2 separate regions of the Homo sapiens genome follow, and region 2 is linked to region 1. Evidence: fine-mapped expression QTL. Tissue or cell type: whole blood. Region 1 holds a variant in brackets; the other region holds the start of a gene. All regions are shown on one strand. Distances are between the middles of the regions.

The links. PIP is the estimated chance that this variant, and not a neighbour inherited with it, causes the effect.
Region 2: it holds the start of TMEM91, and the variant in region 1 is fine-mapped to the expression of TMEM91 in whole blood (TOPMed, PIP above 0.99).

Annotation. Positions count from the first base shown.
Region 1 is chr19:41,399,364-41,407,423 of GRCh38, reverse strand. All of the region lies in intron 1 of BCKDHA (branched chain keto acid dehydrogenase E1 subunit alpha), which reads right to left. Among named protein-coding and RNA genes, the nearest start is that of BCKDHA, 5.6 kb to the right of the region's middle. RefSeq lists an enhancer at 1-853. The variant CT/T (reference allele first, on the strand shown) is at 4,499.
Region 2 is chr19:41,373,166-41,381,225 of GRCh38, reverse strand. TMEM91 (transmembrane protein 91) reads right to left here and starts at 4,693. Exons shown (of 4, transcript NM_001098821.2): 1 at 4,372-4,693; 2 at 2,707-2,945. The coding sequence starts at 2,916. RefSeq lists silencers at 1,200-1,373, 4,448-4,577.

The DNA of each region.
Region 1 (8,060 bases):
TCCAGGTTGCCTTCACAGCAGGCACTCAAGAGGGAATTCCTGAGTGAATGCATGAATGGGCTGTTAAGTTCCCTGGCTCTGGAGTTCAACTGCCCTGGGTTCTAATTTCTTAGCTCATTGTGTGGCTCTCTGCAAAAACACTTCACCTCTCTGAATTTCCTTATCTGTAAGAAGGCTGCAGAACACCACGTGAAAAGTTGCTAAGTTAACTCACACCAGGGGTTCAGCACCGATCTGGGACGTATTACATACTCAAAACTTGGTAAGAGAGAGAAAAACAAAATCTAGGAAGGTGAGAAGTGGGAGAAAGGGAAGTGACTACACTGTATGAGATAGGGAAAAGAGGAGCTGGGAAGAACTAACTGCACCTTAAAGTGGATACTAAAATCAAACTGTGGCGATGTGCAGCGGCTCATGCCTGTAATCCCAGTACTTTGGGAGGCTGAGGTGGGAGGATCACTTAAGGCCAGTGGTTCGAGATCAGCCTAGGCAACATAGTGAGTCCAGCCTAGGCAAAACCCTCGTCTCTGAAAAATTTTTAAATTAGCCAGGAAGGCTGGGCGTGGTGGCTCACGCCTGTAATCCCAGCACTTTGGGAGTCCGAGGCAGGCAGATCACCTGAGGTCAGGAGTTCAAGACCAGCCTGGCCAACATAGTGAAACCCTGTCTCTACTAAAAATACAAAAAACAGCCGTGCATGATGGTAGGTGCCTGTAATCCCAGCTACTTGGGAGGCTGAGGCAGGAGAATGGCTTGAACCTGGGAGGCGGATGTTGCAGTGAGCCAAGATGGCACCATTGCACTCCAGCCTGGGTGACAAGAGTGAGACTCTATCTAAAAAAAAAAAAAAAAATTAGCTGGGAATGGTGGCATTTACATGTAGTCCAGATACTGGAGTTGCGGGAGGCTGAGGTGAGAGGATGGCTTGAGCCCAGGAGGTCAAGGCTGCAGTGAGCCATGACTGCACCATTGCACTCCAGCCTGGGCAACAAAGTGATACCCTGTCTCAAAGAACAATAAAACCAAACTGTGGCCCCAGCAGATACTCCAGAGAGGGAGACTGAGGCACAGGGGAGACGGCATGCTGATGGAAGAGGACCGAAGGCTGAAGTCTTCAGACGGGCACTAAGAGGGGAGGCCAGAGTCTGAGAACAAACCACTGTGTCAGGGCAGGACTGTCAGCCTCTAGAGGCTGGACAGCTATCTTCACGGCACCCCAGTGTGCTCCACATACTGCAGCTGGGTCTCGGCTGTACCCTCCTCCCCTCTTTGCTGGGCTGGTGGAGATAATGGTAGTCCCCAGCCCCAGGGTTGCTGCCCCAATTCAGTGAGCTATGCAAAGGGCTCCACGCTGTGCCTGGTCCTGAGGAAATGCTCCATAATGGGAGTGGGTGGCCAAATGCCTGCAGAGGAAGGATGCGACTCCACCCATCTGTTCCTCTAGTTTTTGGAAGGGGGTGGGGGAGTCTGTCCCGGTGGCCAGTGATTTACAATGGCAGAGGCTGCACAGATTTACACAAAGCTTCATGCCACGTCCTCTCCCACCATGCAGGAAAGCACAACCTGCCCGCTCTGGATGGTCTGGTCTGCCCAGGAAGTACTGGGGTGACCCTGGTGGAGTCACTTGAAGGCACCATGGCTAAGCGCATGGACTCTAACTGAGCAGACCGCTGCCTGATTATGTGACTTAAACTCCCTGAGCCAAGTGCAGTGGCAGACGCCTGTAATTCTAGCTACTCTGGAGGCTGAGGCAAGAGGATCACTTGAGTCCAGGAGTTCGAGGCCAGCCTGGGAAACATAGTGAGACCTCGTCTCTACAAAAATAAATATATAAATAAAATTTAAGGCCAGGTGTGGTGGTTCACACTTGTAATACCAGCACTTTGGGAGGCCAAGGAGGGAGGATCGCTTGAGCCCAGGAGTTCAAGACCAGCCTGGATAACATGGCAAGACCCCATCCCTACAAAAAATTAGCTGGGCATGGTGGTGCACACCTGTACTCCCCAACTACTTGAGGGGCTGAGGTGGGAGGATCGCTGGAGCCCAAGAGGCTGCAGTGAGCCAAGATCACACCACTGCACTCCAGCCTGGGTGACAAAGTAAGACCTGTCTCAAGGAAAAAAAAAAGAAAAAATTTTTAAAGAAAAACTCCCTGAGCCTCAGTTTCCTCCTGTGTACACCGAGGGTGGTATAAGTACTTATCTCAGGGGTTGTCATGAGGATTAACCGAGTTGACCTGTGTGGATTGCTCAGCCCAGTGCCTGGCACATAATGTTTCATAAACACAAGTAGTGAGTAAGTATTTCTCATGATTGTTCTTGTTAAACAGATACTGAACATTTGCTCCAAATCATGCCCTGAACTGAAGGCTAGAGACAGGGAGGGATGAATGACAAACACTGAACACACAAGTTATAATCAAGACAGGTGATCTTACTCACATTGCTTCACCTGACTAGCCTAAAAAAACAAAAAAGTGTCAAGTTGACAGGTAAGCCAAATGAAAATACAGAAATAATATGGCTGGGTGCGGTGGCTCATGCCTGTAATCCCAGCAGATTTGGGAGGCTGAGGCAGGTGAATCACTTAAGGTCAGGAGTTCATGACCAGCCTGTCAGGCTGATCACGATGGTGAAACCCCATCTCTACTAAAAATACAAAAATTAGCCAGGCGTGGTGGCACGCACCTATAGTCCCAGCTACTCAGGAGGCTGAGGCAGGAGAATCGCTTGAACCTGGGAGGTGGAGGTTGCAGTGAGCCAAGATCGCACCACTGCACTCCAGCCTGGGTGACAGAGTGAGACTCCATCTCAAATAAATTAATAAATAAAATTAGGCTGGGCGTGGTGGCTCACGCCTGTAATCCCAGCACTTTGGGAGACCGAGGCGGGCGGATCATGAGGTCGGGAGATCGAGACCATCCTGGCTAATAAGGTGAAACCCTATCTCTACTAAAAATACAAAAAATTAGCCGGGCGTGGTGGCGGGCGCCTGTAGTCCCAGCTACTCGGGAGGCTGAGGCAGGAGAATGGCGTCAACCTGGGAGGCAGAGCTTGCAGTGAGCCGAGATTGTGCCACTGCACTCCAGCCTGGGTGACAGAGCAAGACTACATCTCAAAAAAATAAATAAATAAATAAAATTTTGGCCGGGCACAGTGGCTTATGCTTATAATCTCAATACTTTGGGAGGCCAGGGCAGGCAGTTCACTCGAAGCCAGGAGTTCAAGACCAGCCTGGCCAATATGGCGAAACCCCATCTCTACTAAAGACACAAAAATTAGCCAGGCATGGTGGTGCATGTCTGTAGTCCCAGCTACTCGGGAGACTGAGGCACGAGAATCGCTTGAGCCGAGGAGGCAGAGGTTGCAGTGAGCCAAGATCGCACCACTGCACTCCAGCCTGGGTGAAAACAGAGCAAGACTCTGTCTCAAAACAATAACAACAGCAGCAAATAAATAAGTAAATACTCACATAAAATTTTAAAATAAAAAAAAACGGGAGATTTCAGAGGAGGCAGGATGTATAGTGGTTACCCACATAGGAGGTAGGATGAGGGTCTCTAGGGTTAAACTGCTGGTGTTTGAATCTGGTTCTGTCTCTTTCCAGCCACGCGGCCTTGGACAGGAGCCAGTCTCTGTGAACCTGCGTGCCCTCGTGGGGATGGCATCCACCTCACAGGCTGGTGGAGAGGCGGGGAAAGCACCTGCCGCAGCTCTGGCAGGAATGCCTCACCAGCTAGGATCAGATAGTACCCCTCCAGGAAGCACCAGCATCAGATGGCACACCAGGGAAAGCTTCCTAAAGAAGGGGGAGTTCAGCCAAGGGGTCAGAACACTTCAGTCCTAGGGAAAAACCAAGGCTCCAAGGCAAGAGAAGAAAGCCTGGCGCCCTGGGACCCTGAAGACTGGCATGGCTGCTATAGGTCAATCAGAGAATAACTACATGCTGAGGTGCCACTCAAAGCACTTTATTTACACCTATGTGCTCACTGAACCCATAAGGCATCCAGACGGGGCAGGCACTGTTATCATAACTCCATCAAAGACAGGTGGTAGCTGAGGCGCCGCCTCAAGGGCTAAGCAACTTGTTCAGGTCCAGTGCATGCAAGGCTTTGTGGATGGTGCCAGTTAACTCCAAGTCCTCCGTATCTAGGGTAGCTAAGGCCACCCAAACCCACTCTCTCCTGAGCTCAAAGGCACTCTGCCCTCAAACAGAGCAAAGAGTTGAGTCCCCCTTCCCAGAATATCTCGTGAGAAGGGAAAGGCGTGCAGATTAGGCAGGTATCACTGTCCCTGTTTCACAGACAGAGACCTGGTGTTTGGGGTCTGGAACGCTTCTCTGAGGAAGTGTCATGTCAGCCATCATCTGAAGGACCTCATACCTACAAAGGCCACCAGGTGGGAGGAGGCACATTCAAGGAAGGGAAAGATGGCCAGGGGGACTGAAGTGGAAAGAGGCGAAAGACAAGAAAAATCACCTGCCCGGCCACACATGGTGG[CT/T]CACGCCTGTAACCCCAGCACTTTGGGAGGCTGAGGTGGGTGGATCAGTTGAGGCCAGGAGTTCGAGACCAGCCTGGCCAACATGGCAAAACCCTGTCTCTATTAAAAATATAAAAATTAGCCGGACACGGTGGCACACACCTGTAGTCCCAGCTACTCGAGAGGGGGAGGCAGGACAATCGCTTAACCCAGGAGGCAGAGGTTGCAGTGAGCAGAAATCACGCCACTGCACTCCAGCCTGGGTAACAGAGCAAGACTCCGTCTCAAAAAAATATAAAACAAAATAAGCCAATACTGGACTAAGAAGAATGTTGCAAGACTTGAATCTAAGCTCCATCCTTTCTCCTCCTGGCAGCCTGGTACCATGAAAAGAAACTGGGTTTTGGAGTCCAGAGCTCCAAGTTCAGACCTCACCTCTCTGAGCCTCAGTCTCTCCATCTGTAATAGGAGAGTACTACCAATAAAGGCCTTGCACTATTGGTGTATTAAATATAATAAAAAATTAGAGTTGGATTTGTAAACCATTCAGTGCCTCAAGATGTGAAAAAGGAGGCCAGGTTTCTTAACACACTAGCAAGTAAGAGATGGACCCATACACTTAGAAGACTGTAATGACCATCTCCATTCATCCCACAATACACACTGACATGGTTTGTCTCTGTCCCCACTCAAATCTCATCTTGAATTATAGCTCCCATAATTCCCACATGTTGTGGGAAGGAGCCAGTGGGAGGTAATTGAATTATGGGGGTGGATCTTTCACGTGCTGTTCTCATTATACTGAATAAGTCTCACGAGATCTGATGGTTTTATAAAGGGGAGTTCCCCTGCAAGCACTCTGTCTGCCTGCCACCATGTAAGATGTGACTTTGCTCCTCATTTGCCTTCCGCCATGTTTGTGAGGCTTCCCCAGCCATGTGGAACTGTGAGTCCATTAAGCCTCTTTTTCTTTATAAATTACCCAGTCTTGGGTGTGTTTTTATTAGCAGCCTGAAAACGGACTAATACATACACTGAGTACCTACCACTTGGAGATACTGCACAGGGCACTGGAACCCCCAGACAGGCTGCCCCTGAAGAGCTGGGTCACAGAAATAGTCACCGATAATTAGCACAGAGCGAGCTCCAGGGGCTTCCTGACTTCCAACAGGGTAGGGACTCTATTCACCCCACTAGCTAGGGTCAGAGAGGTGAAATGACTTAGCCAAGCCCAGGCCTGGGGTAGTGGCTGAGAAACTGACTCACAATTCCTTGACAATCTGAGTTTCCTTCCTCCTCCTTTCCCTGAGCACTAAAACGTCTGCTATGATAACAGAGACAGGAAGGGAGGTGAAAATCAGGCAAACACATCTGCAGGGCAGCAGGGTATTCAATGAAGGAGTGGGCAGAGCAGGGGCAAGAAGTCGGGGACAAGTAAAGCAGCCCCACTCCTCCTTCTAATCCAATCTTCCCCAGTGAACCCAGTAATCCAATCTGTCTACAATATGCAGCCTCTCAACCTTTCCCTGACTATTTCTTCATCTCCACCTGGATAAAACTGCATCATCTTAGCCAGGCATGGTGGCTCACACCTGTAATCCCAGCACTCTGGGAGGCCGAGGTGGGTGGGTCGCCTGAGGTCGGGAGTTCAAGACCAGCCTGATCAACATGGAGAAACCCTGTCTCTACTAAAAATACAAAATTAGCCAGGCATGGTGGTGCATGCCTGTAATCCCAGCTACTCGGGAGGCTGAGGCAGGAGAATCGCTTGAACCCAGGAAGAGGAGGTTGTGGTGAGCCAAGATCATGCCATTGCACTCCAGCCTAGGCAATGAGAGCAAAACTCCACCTCGAAAAAACAAAAAACAAAACAAAACAAAAACCCTGCACCATCTAATGTGGCAGCCACCAACCACTTGTGGCTATCTTATTTTGAGACAGAGGGCTGCTCTGTCACCTAGGCTGGGGTATAGTGGTGCGATCTCGGCTCACTGCAATCTCCGCCTCCCAGGTTCAAGCGATTCTTCTGCCTCAGCCTCCCAAGTAGCTGGGACTACAGGCACACGCCATTACGCCCAGCTAATTTTTTTGTATTTTTAGTAGAGATGGGGTTTCACCATGTTGGCCAGGCTGGTCTTGAACTCCTGGCCTCAGGCAACCCGCCCACCTTGGCCTCTCAAAATGCTGGGATTACAGGCATGAGCCACCGCACCCAGCCCACTTGTGGCTACTTAAACTTAAACTCATGATAATTTAATAATATGGCCAGGCAAGGTGGCTCACGCTTGTCATCCTGCACTTTGGGAGGCTGAGGCAGGAAGATCGCTTGAGTCCAGGAGTTCAAGACCAGCCTGGAAAACATGGCAAAACCCCATCTCTACAAAGATTTAAAAATTAGCCAGGCGCAGCCAGGCACAGTGGCTTATGCCTGTAATCCCAGCACTTTGGGAGGCCGAGGCGGGCAGATCACCTTAGATCAGGAGTTCAAGACCAGCCTGGTCAACATGGTGAAACCCCATCTCTACTAAAAATACAAAAATTAACTGGGTATGGTGGCGCACGCCAGTAGTCCCAGCTATTTGGGAGGCTGAGGCAGGAGAATCACTTGAACCTGGGAAGTGGAGGTTGCAGTGAGCCGAGATCGTGCCACTGCACTCCAGCTTGGGTGACAGAGCAAGACTCCGTCTCAAAAAAAAAAAAAAAAATTAAAAATTAGCCAGGCGTAGTAGCACGTGCCTGTGGTCCCAGCTACTTAGGAGGTGGAGGTGGGGGGATTGCTTGAGCCCAGGAGGTTGAGGCTGCAGTGAGCCATGATCACACCACTGCACTCACTCCAGCCTGGGTGACAGAGTGAGACCTTGTCTCAAAAAAAGAAAAGGCTAGGCGCAGTGGCTCATGCTTTTGGAGGCCAAGACAGGCGGAACTTGAGGCCAGAAGTTCGAGACCAGCCTGGACAACATGGTGAAACCTCGTCCCTACCAAAAATACAAAAATTAGCCAGGCGTGATAGTGCATGCCTGTAATCCCAGCTACTAGGGAGGCTGAGGCAGGAGAATTGCTTGAACTCGGCAGGCAGAGATTGCAGTAAGTCAAGATCATGCTGCTGCACTCCAGCCTAGGCGAGAGAGTGAAACTCTGTCTCAAAAAAGAAAAAAAAAGAAAAAGGAAAGAGAGGTACAGAAAGAAAGAGAGAGAGAAAAGAGAAGAGAAAAGGAAAGGAAAGGAAAGGGAAAAAGAAAAGAAAAGAAAAAGGAGAGGGGAGGAGAGGAGAGGAGAAGGAGAGGAAAGAAAGAAGAAGAGAGAAAGAACAGGTGGGAGAAATAAAGGGGAAAAAACAATAACTCTTAAGATAATACAAATTTAAATATATATAAATAAAAAGTAGGGACTTCTTCCCTCCCCACTCCCCACCAAAAATGAAGTAGGGGAAGCAAGAGGAAAGGTAATCAAGAGATTGAGACAGGAGAGAAAGATTTAATCAGCCATAAATGACCTTTCCCTAGCCTGCCCCAGTCCTGCCCACCTCCTGCCCCACTTGCCCAGCCAATGGGCCCCTGGGACTGAGATCAGCTGTGGAGGATA
Region 2 (8,060 bases), 26 kb after region 1:
GAGCAAGAAGACCCTGTCACTAATAAATAAATAAATAAAAGATGGAGATTATAAAATGCTCCAGTGGCCTAAATGATTAGGGCAAACCTGCCTGCTGAAAACTCTAGAGTTTAGATTTTTAAGCTTTTTTTTTTTTTTTTTTTTTTTTTGAGACAGAGTCTTGCCCAGGCTGGAGGGCAGTGGCTCAATCTCAGCTCACTGCAACCTCCATCTCCCAAGTTCAAGCAATTCTCCTGCCTCAGCCTCCCAAAAGCGGGGATTACAGGCACCCACCACCACGGCCAGCTAATTTTTTTTTTTTTTTTTTTTTTTGAGACAGAGTTTCACTCTGTTGCCCAGGCTGGAGTGCAATGGCGTGATCTCGGCTCACTGCAACCTCCGCCTCCCAGGTTTAAGTGATTCTCCTGCCTCAGCCTCCCGAATAGCTGGGATTACAGGTGTGCACCACTACACCTGGCTAATTTTTGTATTTTTTCTTTAGTAGAAACTGGGTTTCACCATGTTGGCCAGGCTGGTCTCGAACTCCTGACCTCGTGATCCGCCCGTCTCAGCCTCCCAAAGTGCTGGGATTACAGGCGTGAGCCACCGCGCCTGGCCTAATTTTTGTATTTTTAGTAGAGACGGGCTTTCCCTACATTGGTCAGGCTGGTCTTGAACTCCTGACCTCAAGCAATTAACTTGTCTTGGCCTCCCAAAGTGCTGGGATTACAGGCATGAGCCACAGCGCCCGGCCCCACATGCTTTTCTTACCATGTGACTTTGATATCCTTCCCATCAAGGGATGAGTTCTGTGTCCCCTCCCCTTGAATTTGAGCAGGCTCATGACTCACTTGTAATTAATAGAATGTGGTGGAAGTCATGTTACGTGACTTCCAAAGCGAAATCAGAAAAGGTGAGGCAGCTTCTGCTTTGCTGCAATATTCATGCTGTAGGCTGGAGGTACATAAGCTGCCTGACTGCCCTGAAGCCGTTATGCTGTAAGGAATCCCAAGGCAGCAAACATGGAGAGACCACATAGAAGCCCTAAGACTCGGCTGGGCACGGTGGCTCACGCCTGTAATCTGGCACTCTGGGAGGCTGAGGTGGGTGGATCACCTGAGGTCAGGAGTTTGAGACCAACCTGACCAACATAGTGAAACCCTGTCTCTACTAAAAATACAAAATTAGCTGGGCATGGTGACACATGCCTGTAAATCCAGCTACTCAGGAGGCTGAGGCAGGGGAATTTGCTTGAACCCAGGAGGCGGAGGTTGCAGTGAGCTGAGATTGCACCATTGTACTCCAGCCTGGGCAACAAGGGTGAAACTCCATCTCAAAAAAAAAAAAAAAAAAAAAAAGGAAGCCCTAAGACACCATGAAGAGAGAGAAAAGTGCCCAGCCAGCCCCTGACTGTTCTAGTTCCACCCACCAGCTGAATGCAACCTCAAGAAAGATCCAGAGGCAGAACCATGCAACTAAGTCCCAAATTCCTGACCAACAGAAACCGTAAGAGTTCATCATGATTGTTGCCTGCCTGCCTTCCTTTCTTTCTGCTTTCTCCTTCCTTCCTTCCCTCCTTCCTTTCCTTGTTTCCTTCATTCCTTCTTTCTTCCTTCCTTCTTTCTCTCTTTCTCTCTCTCTTTTCTTTCTTTCCTTCCTCCCTCCCTCCCTCTCTCTTTCTCTCTCTCTCTCTCTCCCCCCTCTCCCTCTCTTTTTCTTTCTTTCTGTCTGTCTTGCTCTGTTGTCCAGGCTGGAGTAAGGTGGTATGATCACAGCTCATTGCAGCCTGGGCTCAAGCGATCCTCCCACCTCAGCCTCCCAAGTAGCTGGTACTACAGGAACACGCCATCACACCTGGCTAATTTTTTTTTTTTTTTTTAAGATGGGGTCTTTCTAATTTTCGGAGGACAAAATGAAAAATTAAATAAAAATAAAGATGGAGTCTCACTAAGTTGCCCAGGCTAGCCTAGAACTCCTGGGCGAGGCAGTCCTCCTGCCTCGCCTTCTCAAAGTGCTGGGATTACCAGTGTGAGCCACTGTGCCTGGCCTGGAATGAGAAATTATAAAAAGTGACAACAGTAACTTAAAAAAAAAAAAAAAAAAAAAAAAGGAAGGCTGGGCATGGTGGCTCACACCTTTAATCCTAGCACTTTGGGAGGCCAAGACAGGCAGATTGCTTGAGCTCAGGAGTTTGAGACCAGCCTGGGCAACATGACAAAACCTCTTCTCTACAAAAAACACCAAAAAATTAGCCAGGCATGGTGGCACATGCCTGTGGTCCCAGCTACTCAGGAGGCTGAGGTGGGAGGATTGCTTAAGCCCGGGAGGTCAAGGTTGCAGTAAACTATGATCGCTCCACTGCACTCCAGCCTGGGCAACAGAGCGAGACCCTGTCTCTCTCTCTCTCTCTCTCTCTCTCTCTCACACACACACACAAAGAGGGAGACAGCAGGGTGGACAAAAGCCAGAGGTGCATGCACTCTGAAGACACCAACCAGCGGAGTCTGAGATCAGAGGGAAGACAGAGCCAAAAGCCAGGCAACAAAGATGAGAGACATAAAACAAGAAGAACCGTAACTGGAAATCTCAGAAGCCCACACACAGCTGGGAAGTGAGACTCCAGGCCTAAGGCAGATCGGCACAGCTGTCAACCTGCCAGATGCTGGCCTTAGTGGGGCTCACCCCAGCCCCCTCCCGTGCCTTCCACTAAGGCCTGCTGTTTCCTACCTCAACATCAGGGGGCCTTGGTTCCCCCAGGCCAGCGCTCACGGAGGGAAGAGGCGGTGACAGGAACTGCAAACCCCTCAGGGACTCGGCAAAGGCTATCTCTCTTAAGGGGGACCCCAGCTCATGCCTGCCAGGCTTCTGGGCAGGGGTCTCACATTCTGTGCCCTCCAGCAGAGGCTGTTGAAGCTCACGAAGACTAGGGCTGTCCATGGCTTTGGGGAAACTCCAGGAGGGGTTTCCTAGGGGTAGGGGGAAGAAAAAGACAAGTTGTAAAAGTCTCACTTCACTCAACCTCTGACCCCTTGCTTTAGAGAGACTCAGGCAGAGACTAGTTAGTGCAGTGGTCCTCAGACCCATTTTACAGATACAGAAGCTGAGGCCCAGAGAGAAAAAAAGATTGGCCTCAGGTTATGAAGAGAACTCAGGGGTCTGGACATTCAATTTTGGGCATTTCTCTCTCTCTCTCTTTTTTTTTTTTTTTTTTGAGACAAAGTCTCCATCTGTTGCCCAGGCAGATCCACCACTGCAGATCCGCTAGAGTGCAGTGGCATGATCTCAGCACACTGCAGCCTCCACCTCCCGGGTTCAAACCATTCTGCCTCAGCCTCCCGAGTAGCTGGGATTACAGGCGCCCACCACCATGCCCGGCTAATTTTTTTTTTTGTATTTTTAGTAAAGATAGGGTTTCACTGTGTTAACCAGGCTGGTCCCGAACTCCTGACCTTAGGGGATCCACCAGCCTTGGCCTCCCAAAGTGCTGGGATTACAGGCGTGAGCCACCGCACCCAGCCAAATTCTGGGCATTTCTCTCAGGCAAAAGCCACATACCCATCACACTTACCCCAATAAGTTGCAGCACCTGTTGCACCATGCCTTACACACTTACCTGCCCCACAAACACCCCCAATATCCATCCCAGGTTCATACCGCGTGACCACCTATCCAGGCCCAGGCACCCCTCCCAGTCACACACACACCCATCCCCTACCCCCAGTGCTGCCTGGAACTGCACTCTAGTCTACATTCCCCATCCTCTGTCCCCTAGACCTGCCCCCCGAAGTCCCCTGCCACACAGCCCCATCTAGGCAAGCCCAGCCTCCACCTCCACACATTCATCTCCCAAAGGACTCCTTGAATATTTGCCCCAAAACATCAGCTCCCAGAAAACACCCCTTTCAGGTCCCCAACCTTCTTACACATTTATCCCAATTGACTCCGTGCACAACCCTACTCCCCACTGCATCACAAACCACAGACACCTGTGCACACACGCACACATGCACCCCGGCACTCTCTCCTATTCTCATGACCTCTGGCATGCCTGCCCCACTCATCAGGCCCAGGCACCCCTGCCCTACTCCACCCACACACCTATGACTCCACACAACTCCCACACATGCACCAGCTCTCCAGAATCCTTTGCACACCTCGCCCCCATAAACACCCTCAACCCCAGCACACACATACACGTACACACGCAACACAACCAGAAAGAATATTCTTCTTCTCGTCCTACGATCCCCCTGGAAGGTCCCCAAGCCTCCTGCCTGCTCATTCCAAACCTTGACTGAGCCGATTTCCTCGCCAAAGCTTTGCCCTCTCATCCCCAACTCCAGGACCCAGGGAAGGGACTGTGACCCCCACCCACCTACGTCCCTCACTCACCGCTCACGATCACAGGCCGGGGCTTCCTGAACCCTCGCAATGACACTTGCCCGGACCCTGCCACCGAGGATCCAAGGGGCGCTGGGACCTTGCGCTTTGCTCTACGCGGGTCTCAGCGCCCCGGGCCCGCTGCGCGCGGGGGCGGGGACGGGGCGGGGCGACGGCTTCCCAGGCTCTGTCCCTCCGCGGCGTCCGGCGAGGGATCCCTGAAAGCCGACGTCAGCGTCCAGGAACGGGTTCCTACGACTCCCGGGGGTCTGGGAGCAGGCGGGAATCCTTGGAGAACTGCAGCCCCTTCCTCGTGAGCCCAGGCCCAAGCTCTGCCGGAGGAGGGGGCACCCCGGATTCTCCAGGGCCTTCCTGGCTTGGCCCCGCCTCCCTTCCCCTTTGCGCAATAATAGCCAATAATAATAACAGCAACAAGGACCGTGCGCCCTGTTCTAAGTGCTTTGCAAATAAACTTACATACACATGTATTCCTCAGCACAACCCTAAGAGGCATAATCGTTTATTGTCCTGTTTCACGCGGGAGGAAACTGGCAAGCCGAGGTTAGGTAAATTGCCTAGGGGTACATCATTGGTTCATTGAGGGCAGACTGTACCCAAGCCCTGTGTTAAACGCTTTACATTCATCATCGCATTCATTCTTCCTCTCAGCTCCGGGTTTTTCTTGTTGTTGTTGTTGTTGTCGCTGCTATTTTACTTTGGTTTTTTTGTTTGTTTTGTTTTGTTTTTGAGACGGAGTCTTGCTCTGTCGCCCAGGCTAGAGTGCAGTGGAGTGATCTCGGCTCACCGCAACCTCCGCTTCCCGGGTTCAAGCGATTCTCCTGCCTCAGCCTCCCGAGTAGCTGGGATTACAGGGGCAAGCCACCACGCCCAGCTAATTTTTGTATTTTTAGTAGATGAGATTTCGCTGTGTTGGTCAGGTTGGTCTTGAACTCCTGACCTCAGGTGATCTGCCCGCCTCAGCCTCCCAAAGTGTTAGGATTACAGGCGTGAGCCACCGCGCCCGGCAGATTTTTTTTTTATTATTATTTTTTAAAAGACGGGGTCTTGCTCTGATCGCCCAGGCTGGAAGGCAGTGGCGCAATCATTGCTCGCTTCAGCCTCAGACTCCTGGGTTCACTGCAGCCTCGGCCTCCCAAAGCGGTGGGATTACAGGTGTGAGTCACCGCGCCTGGCCTATTTTGTTTTGGGGTGTTTTTTTGCGGAGGAGTGCTGAAGGGGTGTTGGCTTGTTTTTAATCCCTGTTTTGCAGATAAAGAAACGGGCTCACGGGCCGGGCGCAGTGGCTCACGCCTGTAATCCCAACACTTTGGGAGGCCGAGGCGGGCGGATCACGAGGTCAGGAGATCCAGACCATCCTGGCTGACACGGTGAAACCCTGTCTCTACTAAAAATACAAAAAATTAGCCGGGCTTGGTGGCGGGCGCTTGTAGTCCCAGCTACTTGGGAGGCTGAGGCAGGAGAATGGCGTGGACCCGGGAGGCGGAGCTTGCAGTGAGCCGAGATCGCGCCACTGCACTCCAGCCTGGGAAACAGCAAGACTCCGTCTCAAAAAAAAAAAAAAAAAAAAAAAAAGAAAAGAAAATAAACGGGCTCACTTGCATGCTCACTTGGCCACAGTAAACAGCTGGTACCAAGCCCAGCATATTGTAACCCCGGGCTGTGTTCCTGTGGCCCTTGCTAAGCCAATGGGTGAGGAGGAAGCAGAGGCAGGTGGGTTAGGAGTTTCTAGGGAAAGAAGGCTGAGGAGTGGGGTCCAGTAGGGGGTGATGCTCTGATTGTCACGTGGTACAGTGATGTTCATGAGTCAGCATTTGGACCCACATAGACCTGGTTTCCTTTCCAGGCTCTTTGTTTGTTTGTTTGAGATGGAGTTTCACTCTTGTTGCCCAGGCTGGAGGGCAATGGCGTGATCTCGGCTCACCGCAACCTCCGCCTCCCAGGTTCAAGCGATTCTCCTGCCTCAGCCTCCCGAGTAGTTAGGATTACAGGAATGCGCCATCACACCTGGCTAATTTTGTATTTTTGGTAGAGATGGGGTTTCTCCATATGAGTCAGGCTGGTCTTGAACTCCCGACCTCAGGTGACCCACCCGCCTCAGCCTCCCAAAGTGCTGGGATTACAGGTGTGAGCCACCATTCCTGGCCCCTTTCCAGGCTCTTTAAGTCACTGAGTGTGTGGCCTCTAGACAATGCCTTCACCTCTCTGAACCCCTATTTCTTCACCTACAAAATGGGGATAATGCTCCTTGCCTCTTATGTGATAACATATGTAGAGTACTTAGAGTTGCTGCAACAACAAATGTCCAACATTGGGAGCCTCTCTGAACCTATTTTGGTTTAGGTGCTGCCTAGGAAATAGAAAAATAAAAAATAAAAAGAACAGATATCCAACATTTATCCAAAGCCTGGCAAAGAAAGCACTCTGAACACATTTGATGGTGTTTATTAATATTATTATTTACATCCATCTCCATCGGACTGATTACAAGACTATCATCGTCTTGCAAGCTTCCACCTCCTTCATGGAGCCTTGTATAGGCCTCCCTTCCCAGAAGCCCTCCGTCTCACCAGACTGGAGGATTCCCTGGCCTTTGTGGGGCCGGAGTTCCCTCGCTCCAGGGCTCCAGGGCTCCTTGCCAAGAGTCCAGATGCTGGCGCTGGCACCGGCCCCACTCCCAGGGAGAACAGATGGCGTCTGCAAGTGCACTTGGCTCAGCCAGTTTCTGGCAGACGACAGAAGCAGGGAGACCCACGGGAGGGTAGACGAGAGCGTGAGGGGGCAGGATTGTTTTACTCAGGAGGGATGCCCTGTTACTTTCTATCTCAACCTTGCTCTCATTCTTTTCATATTTCTATGAAGCATACTGTAGGCCAGGTGCGGTGGCCCACGCCTGTAATCCCAGCCCTTTGGGAGGCCGAGGAGGGAGGACTGCTTGAGCCTAGGAGTTCGAAACCAGCCTGGGCGACATAGCAAAACCCCAGTCAGCAAGGCTGGAGTGCAGTGGCACGATCTCAGGTCACTGCAACCTCCATCTCCTGGGTTCAAGCCATTCTCCCACCTCAGCCTCCCAAGTAGCTGGGATTATAGGAACCTGCCACCATGCCCAGCTAATTTTTGTACTTTTAGTAGAGACGGAGTTTCACCATGTTGCCCAGGCTGGTCTCAAACTCCTGACCTCAAGTGATCTGCCCGCCTTGGCCTCCCAAAGTGCTGGGATTATAGGCGTGAGCCACTGCACCCGGCCTTAAACATACCATGTATTTTTCTTGTTTGTAGTTTGAATCCTCCCACATCAGTGTCGGCACAACAAGGGCTGAGATTTGATCTCGTTTTTTCACTACTGTGCCTCACGGCCTAAAACAGTGCCTGGCACAAAGTGGGTCTTTATTACATATGTGTGGGATGGGGGCATAAATTCCCATCAGCCTCCAGCCTCAGTTTTTCACCAAATCATTGAGCTCTGTGGGTCCCCTCATCCCTCTAGGCCATCCTAGAGATTAATTCACTTCCAGTGAGAGCTCTCTGGCTGCCGTTAGCCTTGTACAGTCTAAGAGGCTACACCTCTTAGTGTTTGTGACAGGTCTGGAATATTAAACATGAGATTCCAGCTGGGTACGGTGGCTCAAGCCTGTAATCCCAGCACTTTGGGAGGCCAAGGTGGGAGGATTACTTAAACCCAA